Homo sapiens: one gene and its partner. The protein of the gene in region 2 interacts with the protein of the main gene of each other region in a pairwise test. Each region holds a gene or a part of one and is shown on either strand. Other genes may lie near its edges.

Evidence for each region.
Region 1: the proteins of ZNF622 (region 2) and MELK interact in a two-hybrid assay, tested with the Homo sapiens proteins (one study listed by BioGRID).

What each region holds. Positions count from the first base shown.
Region 1 is NC_000009.12:36,574,811-36,583,878, forward strand, and holds part of MELK (maternal embryonic leucine zipper kinase), read left to right. Parts: intron 1-5,262; exon of another isoform or gene 5,263-6,061; intron 6,062-6,833; 5' UTR 6,834-6,871; coding exon 6,872-6,929; intron 6,930-8,816; coding exon 8,817-8,902; intron 8,903-9,068. UniProt on the Homo sapiens protein: Serine/threonine-protein kinase involved in various processes such as cell cycle regulation, self-renewal of stem cells, apoptosis and splicing regulation. Has a broad substrate specificity; phosphorylates BCL2L14, CDC25B, MAP3K5/ASK1 and ZNF622.
Region 2 is NC_000005.10:16,451,019-16,455,800, reverse strand, and holds the end of ZNF622 (cytoplasmic 60S subunit biogenesis factor ZNF622), read left to right. Parts: intron 1-2,644; coding exon 2,645-2,788; intron 2,789-4,016; coding exon 4,017-4,144; 3' UTR 4,145-4,282; downstream 4,283-4,782. UniProt on the Homo sapiens protein: Pre-60S-associated cytoplasmic factor involved in the cytoplasmic maturation of the 60S subunit.

The DNA of each region.
Region 1 (9,068 bases), on a different chromosome or scaffold from region 2:
TCCCAATTCCTTGCTCTTCTGAGAAGTTAAAGACCCCAATTATAGGCCGGGCGCGGTGGCTCACGCCTGTAATCCCAGCACTTTGGGAGGCCGAGGCAGATGGATTGTGAGGTCAGGAGTTCAAGACCAGCCTGGCCAAGATGGTGAAACCCCATCTTTACTAAAAATACAAAAAATTAGCCGGGCGTGGTGGCGCACACCTGTAATCCCAGCTACTTGGGAGGCTGAGGCAGAATTGCTTGAACTCAGAGGGCGGAGGTTGCAGTGAGCCGAGATTACGCCACTGCACTCCAGCCTGGGCAAGAGAGCAAGACTCCGTCTCAAAAACAAAAACAAAAACAAAACCCAATTATATATACCCCCAATTCTTCTATTTATTTAGTCAAGCCCAGAAGGGCACTCAGGTGTCTGATTGGGGTCTAATTTCCTTCTTCATTATTCACAGTTGAGAGGCTGTCTTCCGCGTTGACTGATAATATACCTCCTTCAGCAGCTACAAAGTTGGGTTACTCTGTTCTCAAGGCTTTTCTGTATTCTATATTAACAAACTCTAGAGGATAAACAGGGCACATGAGAATATTTAGAACCAGCTCCACATTCACAAAGATTTACAAATCAAGTATAATCTGCTATTAGTGTAGGAGTTTGTAATGTAAGCACCAGTTTTCTCACATTGCAGCAACAACGATATTCCCTTGATTCAGTAGCTATAATCTAGGCCCACATTGGTATTACTCATCCAAAGACATGATGTAATTTGAGAGAAGCGGGTAGATAGAGAAAATGGAAGAAAGAAAGAAAAAAAAAAGTGCATGGCTTCAGTCTTACCTTAGTTGTTAAATAAACAACTTGCCCATCTCTGCTAGTTTTCCAGAGGCCATGACTGGGATGTTTATAACTCTTTTGGGAGAAGTCTATTAAGTTAATTATGACACTCTTAAATCCCTAATCTGGGAAGTGAATTCCAGCATCTTACAAATTGCTTTCTCTTTCTGAGTGACAATTTGAAATAGCCCAGTCCTTTGCATGGAATGTAAACATGTGCATTCAGATTTATAGTCCAGTGTTCCTCCATTTCCATTCTCCTGCTCTCTTTTTTCTTCTGTATCAGGATTCCAAAGATTTCTGAGCCTTAGGTTGACCTCTATACTTTTACTGTTTTTATTGCCTTTTGGAATTTCTTAGTCCTATGGTTCCTGTTTGTTTTTAGGATGAGGTTCCAGTTTATCCCCACATTTGCCCCACTGACAAATGCCCTTTAAAATATTTCTGAATTAGTGTTGCTGTTTAAAGTATTTAATCCTGTGCCTTCAGGTGCCCAGTGAGAATAAATTTGTCCTCTGTGATATCTCCTTGCCTTGAGTAACTTTTTCTACTCCAGTGGAAGCAGAATGTTTCATTTTCTATCAACAGTTTTCCCTCAGTACTGGGACCTGACCTTGCTTCTTCTAATGTTTGCCTACTGTGTTCATGCAGATTTCGTTAGGTTAAATGTTCAACCTACTTATTAAGTTGGGTCCAGTGTGATCTCTTCCTAGGAAATGGCTTAATATTGTTTATTTTATCAGAATGTCGTTTTGCATGTTATCTTTTTGTGTGCTATTTCTGCTTTGATGTTGAAGACTGAACCTTGTTTTTTAAAGCTGATTTAATTTTTTTCTTGAGTGTCGATATTTTTCCTTCTAAAGCTTCTGCTCTAGTTTTCTATTCATTGACCAAATTTTTTTTGTTTGTTTTTGAGCTGGAGTCTCACTCCTGTCGTGCAGGCCAGAGTGCAGTGGCGTGATCGCGGGTCACTGCAACCTCCACCTCCTGGGTTCAAGCGATTCTCCTTCCTCAGCCTCCCTAGCAGCTGGGATTACAGGTGTGCATCACCACGCCCGGCTAATTTTTGTATTTTTAGTAGAGACGGGGTTTCTGCATGTTGGTCAGGCTGGTCTCGAACTCCTGACCTCAGGTGATCCACCTGCCTTGGCCTACCAAAGTGCTAGGATTACAGGCGGGAGCCATTGTGCCCAGCCGTTTTTTACTTGCTGATAATAATTTTCTTTTTCTCTCCAAGTAAAATGATTCATGGAATCAGTGTTTCAGGCATAGAAAAATGATATTTTTAAAATGTCCTTTGTGGCTTTTGGGGTTTTGATAAGTTCATTCAGAATTTTTTCCACCTCAATTTTAAGAAGACTACTCATCATTGTATGAAGGGCCTTCTCTTATTAAGCTCTGTCTTCCTTTATAAGCTCACCACACTTCTGAGGTTGAACTCACACTCTAGGTCTTCCAAATTCATGGCCATTATTAAGGCTTAGTAACATGCTAGTCACTCAGTTCTGGATAAGGGCAGGGTGAAGAACAGAGAATTTGAAGGTAGTTTACGTGGCACCTGCCACTCATCAGTTTGAGGCTTAAACAGGCTTGCTTGGCCAGGGCGATGGCTCACGCCTGTAATCCCAGCACTTTGGGAGGCCAAGGAGGGTGGATCACCTGAGGTCAGGAGTCTGAGACCAGCCTGGCCAACATGGCGAAACCCCATCCCTACTAAAAATACAAAAATTAGCCGGGTATGGTGTTGTTGTTCGCCTGTAGTCCCAGCTACTTGGGAGGCTGAGGCAGGAAAATAGCTTGAACCTGGGAGGCGCAGGTTGCAGTGAGCTGAGATCGCACTACTGCACTGCAGCCTGGGCACCAGAGCAAGACTCCATCTCAAACAAACAAACAAACTAGCCAGGAGTGGTGGCATGTGACTCCTGGCCTCAAGTGATCCACCCACCTCAGCCTGCCAAAGTGCTGGGATTACAGGCGTGAGCCACTGCACCTGGCCTCGACTAGATTTTAATTTTTAATTTTTATTTATTTTTTTGAGACACAGCTTCGCTTGTTACCCAGGCTGGAGTGCAGTGGCATGATCTCGGCTCACCGCAACCTCTGCTTCCCGGGTTCAAGTGATTCTCCTGCCTCAGCCTCCCTAGTAGCTGGGATTACAGGCATGGGCCACCACGCCTGGCTAATTTTTTATATTTTTAGTAGAGACGGGGTTTCTCCATGTTGGTCAGGCTGGTCTTGAACTCCCGACCTCAGGTGATCCGCCTGCCTCAGCCTCCCAAAGTGCCGGGATTACAAGTGTGAGCCACTGCGCCTGGCTGTTTTTTATTTTTAGTAGAGACAAGGTCTTGCTATATTGTCCTGGCTTGTCTTGAACTCCAGGCCTCAAGCAATCCTCCTGCCTTGACCTCCCAAATTGCTGGGATTACAGACATGAGCCACCATGCCCAGCTATCTTTACGCTTCTTCCTTTTGCCACTCCTAGCTGTAGGTTTGGTATGGGGAAGACCTTAGCTATCTATGTTTTCAACATTTCAAATATTTGTCTTTTGCTTTTAAGTCTTTACAACTGTTACTGATTTTGTATGGTGTGAGATAGAGATCCAATGTGTTTTTTTTTTTCCTTCACCTCATGGCTAATCAATTGTCCCAGCTCCAGAGCTGCATTTCCATCACCTGTTACCTCTAAAAGCAGCCTCAGTTCAGTACCTGTCAACTTTTACTTCCTCTAGGATCTTTGCACCTAAATTCCCTCTTTCTGGAATATTCTCCGTCTATTTCTTTGTGGGCTATGACTGTTAAGGCCTACAGACCAAAGACCACATCTGTAGTAAAAATCATTAGATGTATTTAGTTTGCTGCGCAAGAGAAACCATACTCTTGAGAATTTTGGGTAGTCTCAGAGTGAGTTGAAAGGGGCAGAATGAGGGAAGAATGAGGTGGGCCTGAGGATGTCATTGAAGACAATGAAGTCAGTCAAATAAAGGATCTTTATTTTAACAGCCTTGTATGGAAACATTGTTTATATGGTTATGTTCAGATTCTATTGAAACCATTGTTCAAGTTTTGATAGGAATATCACAGTCTGATTACTGGCAGGGCTGATTTTCTCAATTCTCATCCTTTGAATTAGAGCTTGGCTTAAATGTTACCTTCTCAGAAACCACTGTTGCTTATTTTTATTTCAGTATTTAGTATAGATAATAATAATAGTAATTATTATTTTTTGAGACAGAATCTTGCTTTGTCTCCCAGGCTGGAGTGCAGTGGCACGATCTTGGCTCACTGCAACCTCTGCCTCCTGGGTTCAAGCAATTCTCCTGCCTCAGCCTCCCGAGTAGCTGGGATTGCAGGCGCACACCACAAGGCCTGGCTAATTTATTTATATATTTATTTATTTATTTATTTTTGTGAGATGGAATTTCGCTCTTGTTGCCCAGGCTGGAGTGCAGTGGCACGATCTCGGCTCACTGCAACCTCCGTCTCCTGGGTTCAAGCAGTTCTCCTGCCTCAGCCTCCCGAGTAGCTGGGATTAGAGGCATGTGGCACCACACCTGGCTAATTTTGTATTTTTAGTAGAGACGGGGTTTCACCATGTTGGTCAGGCTGGTCTCGAACTCCCGACCTCAGGTGATCTGCCCGTCTTGGCCTCCCAAAGTGCTGGGATTACAGGCATGAGCCACCGCGCCCAGCCTAATTTTTATATTTTTTAGTAGAGACCGGGTTTTACTATGTTGGCCAGGCTGGTCCCGAACTCCTGACCTCGTGATCCGCCCACCCTGGCCTCCCAAAGTGCTGGGATTATAGGCGTGAGCCTCTGCACCCGGCCTATAAATTATAAGTATTAATTTGTTGTCTACTTATTTGCCTTTTGTCTTCTCCACTAGAATATACACTCCATGAGGGCAGAATCATATTTCTTCTCCATTATAGCCCTAGTGCCAAGGGCAGGTTTGGCATATCATAGGTGCTCAGTAAATATCTGTATGAATAAATGAATAAGAGCAAATTCAAGAGTTTTCTAGAACTGCATTAGCAGTTTTTCCAGACACACTGCTGATCTCTAAAAGTCAACCACGAGGTTATTTTCCACAAGTAAGATGGAGATGGTATGAGTGTGACTTTGTATATTAATGTGCATAACAGGGCCCTACTTAGCTCTATGGTTTTTAAAAAATAAACTACTTAATTTTAAAACTCAGGGAGACAAAATCAATAAGATCTACCTAATTTTTTTTACAACTAATTTTTATTTATTATTTGATGTATAATTAACAGTATATGTAACCCACATAAGTTGTGAAGCATAATAATAAAATACATATCATATACATAATAAAATTGTGTATGACTGGGGTCTTAGTTTGGGTTTTCCTGATGACTACTGATAATTTTTTCATGTCTTCTTTTTTTTTTTTTTTTTTTTTTATTTTGAGACAGAATCTCGCTCCGTTGCCCAGGCTGGAGTGCAGTGGCGTGATCTCGGCTCACTGCAACCTCTGCCTCCTGCCTCAGCCTCCCAAGTAGGTGGAACTACAGGCGCGTGCCACCACCCCTGGCTAATTTTTTATAGCTTTAGCAGAGACAGGGTTTTATGATGTTAGCCACAATGGTCTCCATTTCCTGACCTTGTGATCCACCCGCCTCGGCCTCCCAAAGTGTGGGGGTTACAGGCGTGAGCCACCGCACCCGGCCTTTTTTTTTGAGACGGAGTTTCACTCTTGTTGCCCGGGCTGGAGTGCAATGGCACAATCTCAGCTTACTGCAACCTCCGCCTCCCAGGTTCAAGTGATTCTCCTGTCTCACCCTCCCAAGTAGCTGGGATTACAGGCTCCTGCCACCATGCCTGGCTAATTTGTGTATTTTTAGTAGAGACGGGTTTCGTCATGTTGGTCAGGCTGGTCTCGAACCCTGACCTCAGGTGATCTACCCTCCTCAGCCTCCCAAAGTGCTGGGATTACAGGTGTGAGCCACCTTGCCCAGCTTCGTGTCTTTTTTTTTTAAATTATTTTTTCTTCAGGTAGCCTCCCGAGCCAGAGTAGGCTCAGAGACACCCTTTTCCATGTTTTTGTTGGCCATTTGTGTTTCTTTGAGAAATTTTTTTTTTTTTTTTTGAGACAAAGTCTGGCTGTTTCGCCCAGGCTAGAGTGCAATGGCACGATGTCGGCTCACTGCAACCTCCACCTCCCGGGTTCAAGCGATTCTCCTGCATCAGCCTCCCAAGTAGCTGGGATTACAGGTGAATGCCACCCCGCTTGGCTAATGTTTTGTATCTTTAGTAGAGATGGGGTTTCACCATGTTGGCCAGGCTGGTCTCGAACTCATGATCTCGTGATCTGCCTGCCTTGGCCTCCCAAAGTGCTGGGATTACAGGCGTAAGCCACCATGCCCGGCTGAGAAAAGTTTTTTGTATCATTTGCTTATTTTGCTGTTGAGTTTTTCTTATTGTTTTGTCAGAGTTTATGTGTTTCCTGTGTACATCCACTATTATATTTGTTGCAAGTATCTTCTCACATTTATGGTTTTCTTTTTTTGATGGTGTCTTTGGTTGTATAGAAGTGCTTAGTTTTATTTTTATTTTTTTTATAGATGTGGTCTTGCTATGTTGCCCAGGCTGGCCTCGAACTCCTGGGCTCAAGCTGTCCTCCCAAGTGGCTGACAACACACGCACCACTGTGCCCAGCTGAAGTTCTTAATTTTAATGTTGTTTAATATATTAATTTTTTTCATTATTATTATTAGTACTTTATTTAAGTGATCCTCTCCTATCCTGAAATAATGACAATATTCTTTAAAAAGTTTTAAAGGTTTATGTTTCATACTTTTTAAGTCTATCTGGAATTCATTTTTATGTATGGTGTGAGATAAGAATCCTTTTTTTCATATGGCCAATAATCAGTTTTTTCAGTATCATGTAAATGCATAAGACTTATTTAGATTTGCAGTTACAAGAATGGAGGAGATGATCCGGTATTATTTCCTTTATTGATTATGTACTCTCTGTCTTCTAGGTTCTTTTTCTAATTCCAAATAAACTTGCAAGAGGACTATGAAAGATTATGATGAACTTCTCAAATATTATGAATTACATGAAACTATTGGGACAGGTAATTGTTATTTTTTTTTGGAGGCAGTGGATAGATCAACTATTTGAGAGTATAGATTATTTGGGTAGGTGTGAGCTTTTTCGTCTAACCCACACAGTTTTAAAATTCTTCTACCTACTTCAGTAAGAAAAAGTGGAGCAAGCAGAGAGGAGAATAGTAGGAGAAGCCCTGTAGGTTATTGCAAGGACTTTGACTTTTATTCTAAATAATTTATTCTAAATATTTCTTTTATTTCTTTTTTTTTTTGAGACGGAGTCTCACTCTGTCGCCCAGGCTGGATGGAGTGCAGTGGCGCGATCTTGGCTCACTGCAAGCTCTGCCTCCCGGGTTCACGCCATTCTCCTGCCTCAGCCTCCCAAGTAGCTGGGACTACAGGCGCTCGCCATGCCTGGCTAATTTTTTGTATTTTTAGTAGAGACGGGGTTTCACCGTGTTAATCAGGATGGTCTCGATCTCCTGACCTCGTGATCCACCCGCCTCGGCCTCCCAAAGTGCTGGGATTACAGGCATGAGCCACCGCGCCCAGGCTTCTTTTATTTCTTGACTTTTATTCTAAATTAAAGTCATTGGAGAGTTTTGAGTTAAGGGGTAATTTGACCTTTGTTTTTACAGAGTTGCTGTGGCTGCTTGGTAGATAAAAGGTTGGATGAAGGAGGGCAAGAGCAGAGGCAGGGAGATGTTAGCAGACTATTGCGATAATTCAGGTGTTGATGCTAGAGATGATGGTGGTGTGGATGAGGGTGATGTAAAAGCAGTGAAAGGGGTGGGACATTTTACACACACATATGTACACACCTATGTGTGTATGTTTTTATTAAGGTATAACATATAGTAAAATATGCAAAGTGCAATAATCTCAGTGGAGTTTTACACATATATATGTATACACATACCCATATATTCCCTGTGCGGATCAAGACATAGACCGTTTCCAGGGAGTATCTGCCTGCTTTCCCCCAAGGTAGCCATTGATATATTTTGAGGACAGAGCTAATGGGATTTATTGATGGGTTGGAGTGCTAGAGAAAGAGAAGGGCTAAGGATGGTTCCAGGGTTTTTGGCCTGAGCACCAGGGAAAATGGAGTTGCCCTTTGTTGAAAGGAAGAAGACCATGGGAGAGACTACTAGGAAGTTCTTTTTGGAAATGTTAATTTGGGGATTTCTTTTAGCTGCCTGAGTGGAGACATTTGTCCAGCTTTTGGTTCAGTTTTGAAAAATAATTGCTTATCTTCAAAGTTTTTTTTTTTTTTTGGAGATGGAGTCTTGCTCTGTCGCCCAGGCTGGAGTGCAGTGGTGCGATCTCGGGTCACTGCAAGCTCCACCTCCTGGGTTCATGCCATTCTCCTGCCTCAGCCTCCCGAGTAGCTGGGACTACAGGTGCCCGCCACCATGCCAGGCTAATTTTTTGCATTTTTAGTAGAGACGGAGTTTCACTGTGTTAGCCAGGATGGTCTCGATCTCCTGACCTTGTGATCCGCCCGCCTCGGTCTCCCAAAGTGCTGGGATTACAGGCGTGAGCCACCGCGCCCGGCCTCAAATATTTAAAACTGAGTGGAAGTTTCATATAATTTGTCTTTGGCCTCAGCAACTTTATATTGTGTTCTAGCAGTGTTAATTATAAAGGAAATTTAATTGCAGGATTATTCATAAAGCAGATTTCTAAAGTGAGTTCTGTTTTTTTTTTATTACAAAGTTTGAGATACACTATCATGGTTAAAAAAAAAAAAACCTTCAGCTAGACATTGGATAACAAGCAGCAACAGGAAAAAAAAGCCACAAACTTCTAGGAAAATTTGGCTTGATAGAGTCTTTTAAAATTATTATATATAAAAAGGTGTTTGTGCCTGAGTCCTTGCTTATGCTTTCATAATACATTTTCCTACTTAGGTGGCTTTGCAAAGGTCAAACTTGCCTGCCATATCCTTACTGGAGAGATGGTAGCTATAAAAATCATGGATAAAAACACACTAGGGGTAAGTTTAGATTTATTTAAAAAATAGTCCACTTATAGATCAGTTTCGTGAATTAAAACCTGAATTGTTCTAATGTTCTAGTTACTGCTCTTAGAATAATATTTTTATACCTTTTAAAAAACGTATAGATCTGTGGTTTTAAAAAGTAATCTGGGGGAAGGGATTA
Region 2 (4,782 bases):
ATTTCAAAGACGCTTTAAAAGGCCAACGTGCTGTAGGATGTGTTTCCACATGTTGCTTAAGAATATAAGTATATTGAATTCTTATGTACTAATGACCAACATTATCACCTTGCAAACCTGGAGCGTCCAGACCTAACGTTACAAATAGAACATCACAGTGAACAATGCTGGAATTTCCTGTAGACCCTCCATTTAAGCTTGTGTTTTATCCATCAACTACATCTCACCTATTTCCTGTGGTCTAAGAGCTTTGTTAACTCTTATGCTGTCAAAACAGTCAGGTTTAGGGAAAATGTTTTTATCCACACTAGTATCCAAAGACCATGTCTTTGAATCGAAAGCTTCTTTTTGTCATCTCTTGAGTATGATGATAAAACAAGCAACTGAAAGTAACTACTTTTCCATATCTGTGTATCAAGCAAATTATTTTCCAGTTATTTTGGCAGGTATAGGGACTTAAAATAACCAAAATAATTTTCTTATGCAAATTGAAAGTCTGGATCCTAAAAGCAAATACAGACTTCCACAATATTTATAGTATCTGGTTCATGGTCTTTTTACACAAAAGATTCTGAAAGAAATGGCTTTACCTAGGTAAATATAAATCTTTCCTGGAAACCGTACACAGGGTTCTACCTAGCCAACTATCCTTTATTCATTTTCAGTGGAAATGGCTTTTTCGTGCCTTATGTATATGCTGTTGTTAAATATCTGCATGGTTATGTCTGTCTGGGAAGATATTTGATTACTTTTGTCCTAATTAATATTCTTGTGAAAGGATAGTGTGTATTTAGTAAGCTTTTAGGTAATGCTGATGACACTGGCTTTGCAATGCTGATGACCACCTTTGGAGAGCCACTGCTCTGAGGGAGCCTGGAATTAGTCATCTCTAAACCCAGCCCCCTTCAGGTCATCTCCCTTGAACTTATGACACATGGGTTGGGACATTTTCCCTAGAAAGGGCCAGAGGTGATCGTTTAGGCTTTGTGTGCAATTCTGTCTCTGCAGCAGCTTCCCACCTCTGCTGTTGTAGCAAGCACCAAAGCATCGAGAGATAATACCTACACAGTTGAGCGTGGCTGTGTGGCAGTAAAACAAACCAAAACAGGCGGTTGGCCAGATTTGGTTCTCTGGCTGTAGTTTGCCACCCCTAGATTAATATATCAGATGTGCCTCACCCTTAAATAAGAACCTTGAATTGTTCCTCCAGTAGATATCTTTACTTACCTCAGGTTTTTATTATTCCAGCTACAGAATTTCCAATTGGTGGCCAATACCTTTGTCCCATAGTTTTTTTTTTTTTTTTTTTTTTGGAGACGGAGTCTTGCTGTGTTGCCCAGGCTGGAGTGCAGTGGTATGATCTTGGCTCACCGCAAGCTCCGCCTCCCGGGTTCACACCATTCTCCTGCCTCAGCCTCCCGAGTAGCTGGGACTACAGGTGCCCACCACCACGCCCGGCTAATTTTTTTGTGCTTTTAGTAGAGATGGGGTTTCACCGTGTTAGCCAGGATGGTCTCGATCTCCTGACCTCGTGATCCGTCCACCTAGGACTCCCAAAGTGCTGGGATTACAGGCGTGAGCCACCGCACCCGGCCCTGTCCCATAGTTTTTTTATTTGAAATATTCAGAGTCTATTTTCTTTTTTCTCACTCTGTTACAAGTTAGTGGGCCTATGAGATAATGAGATATACAATCGTGTTGTAATAACATCAGCATACTTTGAAAATTAAATTTAGAAATTCATTTCTGAAAGCATGATTGACTCACATAGTTTTACCAGATCCTACTAAATAAGCAAAAGCTATAGACAGAATTCAACTTAATCACCTTTTAAAATTCATATTCACCAGGTGATTTCCATCATTTAGGAAGCAATAGGTCAGGGTTACTCAGCCTTGGCACTATTGACATTTTGGACTGAATAATTCTTTGTTATGGGGGGCTGTCCTGTGCATGTAAAGATGTTTAATAGCATCTCTGGCCTCTACCCACTAGGTGCCAGTAGTACCCCTCTAGCTGTAACAACCAAAAATGTGTTCAGTCAGTGCCCAATGTCCCTTGCTGGATAAAATCCCCATTGGAGAATCACTGCAATAGAGAGTTTAAGCAAAGGAAAGGTGGATTGATTTCTATTTTAGATCCTGACTGTGGCTTGTAGTCCCAAACATCAGAACTGCTCTCTGTGCTTAATCTTCTTCATATATATATATATATATATATATATATATATATATATATATAATTTTTATTTATTTATATATATAAAACGCTAAAAATCTCTTATCTCCTAGGCCCCTATTATCTGTATTAGTAGGGGTTTCTATGTGAATTTTTGGGGAGGCATATTGTATGCAAGTAAGTACACAATGCTAAGTTTTTCACTTAACAGTGACTTGTCATTTTCTTTTTAAAAAATCTATTGTTTGGTTTTCTTTTTGTTGCATGCTTGCTTTCTTTCACTTTTTATTTTTATTTTACATGCTGCTTCATCTGTCTTTAGTAGATAGAACAACTGTTTCTTCTGGTACATCGATTTTCCATCTAGATATACTAAAAGATCTGATTTGGAAAGCCCTTGCTTTATAGCTCTGCCTTGAAAAAACTATCCAACTCAGTGTTTCAGTATTGCTCTTTTGAAAAACAGGTGCCAGAGTGGGTCATCGCTCCTTGATGAGATACTACAAACAGCGATTTGGCTTGTCAAGAGCTGTGGCAGTTGCCAAAAATCGGAAGGCCGTGGGCCGAGTACTTCAGCAGTACAGAGCCCTGGGATGGACTGGCAGCACAGGTACATTGATCTTTACAACTACAGACCAGTCTGAGAACTTGTATTTCTAGAAGGGGTCTGGGGAAAGTTGTTTCCATTTATGTTGTCCATGTGGATTCTCTCTAGGGGAAACGTAACGTCTTGGCTCCAGGGACTTCCATTACCACTTGATATGTTTAAGGCAATAAGCCCAAAGTGCTATGACTTAGAAATTTCATATTCCTGGCACAGTGATTTTATATACCATTAACTTTTTCAGAAGATAATAGTTACAAAAAGAATTATTTAGTAATCACCAAAGGTTGAAATTATCCTGGAGGTTATGCAGAGGAATTAGATAGTATCCTAGTGGTTAATAGCTTGAGCTGTGGAGTCAGACGTGACTTATGTGATGTACTTAGAGGTTCTTATATGATGAACATGAGTAATTTAATTAATATAAGCTTCTGTTTCCTCATTTATAAAACAGAGATGATAGTAATAAGACCTACCTCTTAGAGTTGAGTGGGTTGAATGTCATGCATGTGTGATATAGTGCATGCCCATAGTCGAGGTTAGCTATCAGTCCCCTTTTTTGTAATTTTCCCATAGAAAATTTAGCAAAAGTTAGAAGAGTAAAGCATGCCACTGCAATTGTTGAGTTTTGAAACCTCATCAGTATGGTACTCTTTACATCTATTCTGATGTGTCTGCTGGATGAAGCTGGTTATATCCTTAGATCTTCAGGGAAAGCATCTATCCAACTGAGGACTGTGGAGAAAATAAGAGGCGGGCTGCCTTCTGATGGCCTGGGAAGCTCTAGGCAACTAAAATCCATTTGAAAAGGCACTGTGTTTATATGTGGTTTCCTTCACTGTGGCTGCTTGTGAGCTGTGTGGCCACTTGAATCTGGCAGAGACTTGACTTCATCTTACTCTTATCAGGAAGTATTGTCTGACTCGATATATAGCTTCTGCCTTTCTGATTAATGGGGCTTTACCTTTTGGGCTTATAAACTCTTCCAGATGATGAAAACTAAAGCTACTAATCCCAGATAAGTGTATATATACAAAAGTTCTGGTATGCAATTCTGGAGTCCACAGAGACCCCTGAGGCGCATGGCTTAGAGACCCCAAGTTAGCAACTCTGTTTTAAATACAAGAACCTAGTTACCCCAAACTAACCTTTTGAATTCTCTGCCAAGGTTGGATTTTCTCTGATCACAAATAACAGAACTTTGCCTAATTTCTTAACTGCCTTCCAATCATAGGAGCGGCTCTTATGCGAGAGCGAGACATGCAGTATGTCCAAAGGATGAAATCAAAATGGATGCTGAAGACAGGAATGAAGAACAATGCCACCAAGCAGATGCACTTTCGGGTCCAAGTGAGATTCTGAGAGTCTGCTGGGATTGAGCAATCATCTCCTGCCCAAGTTTCCTCCTTGCCCTGAGGACCAGTGAAAGACAGATCATAGGAGAGACCCTTTTGCTGCTACTTCATTCGTTCTGACCTAATAATAAAAGTTAGAACCATATGAGTTTTCAGATGTCGTTTTTGAATAGTGTTGAAAGGTTATGTTTTCACAAGGTAAGTCCTGTGTCTACTGGACCCTGGGACTTGCACTGCTGCCTGACAGTTGCTTCATCGCCTCAGCTTTAAATGATTTATGATTGTCAGAGTAATGTGAGGAATCAGGAATGACTTGTGTGCCCCAAACTTAGTTTAACTTTGAGAGTAACTCACCATGTCATGGCACTGGGACCTATGTAAGGGGGCTTGAAGGCTTATGTAGGGGCAAAGTTGAATGTCACTCATGGAATGTATCATGGTACAGGAGGTACTGAATATCTCTGGGCGCTTGCATTAAATCCAGGCTAAGTTAAAAAGCACATCAATAGCTTGCTGTAAAGGTTTTATATTTCTAAACATGACTGCACAGAGTGACTACTGTGTAGTCTGATGCAGTTTCCAGTGGTGCAGTTAGTCTAGGAGGAAAGTAAAGGTAAAATGCTTAGGTATCATTTTAGAAAGACT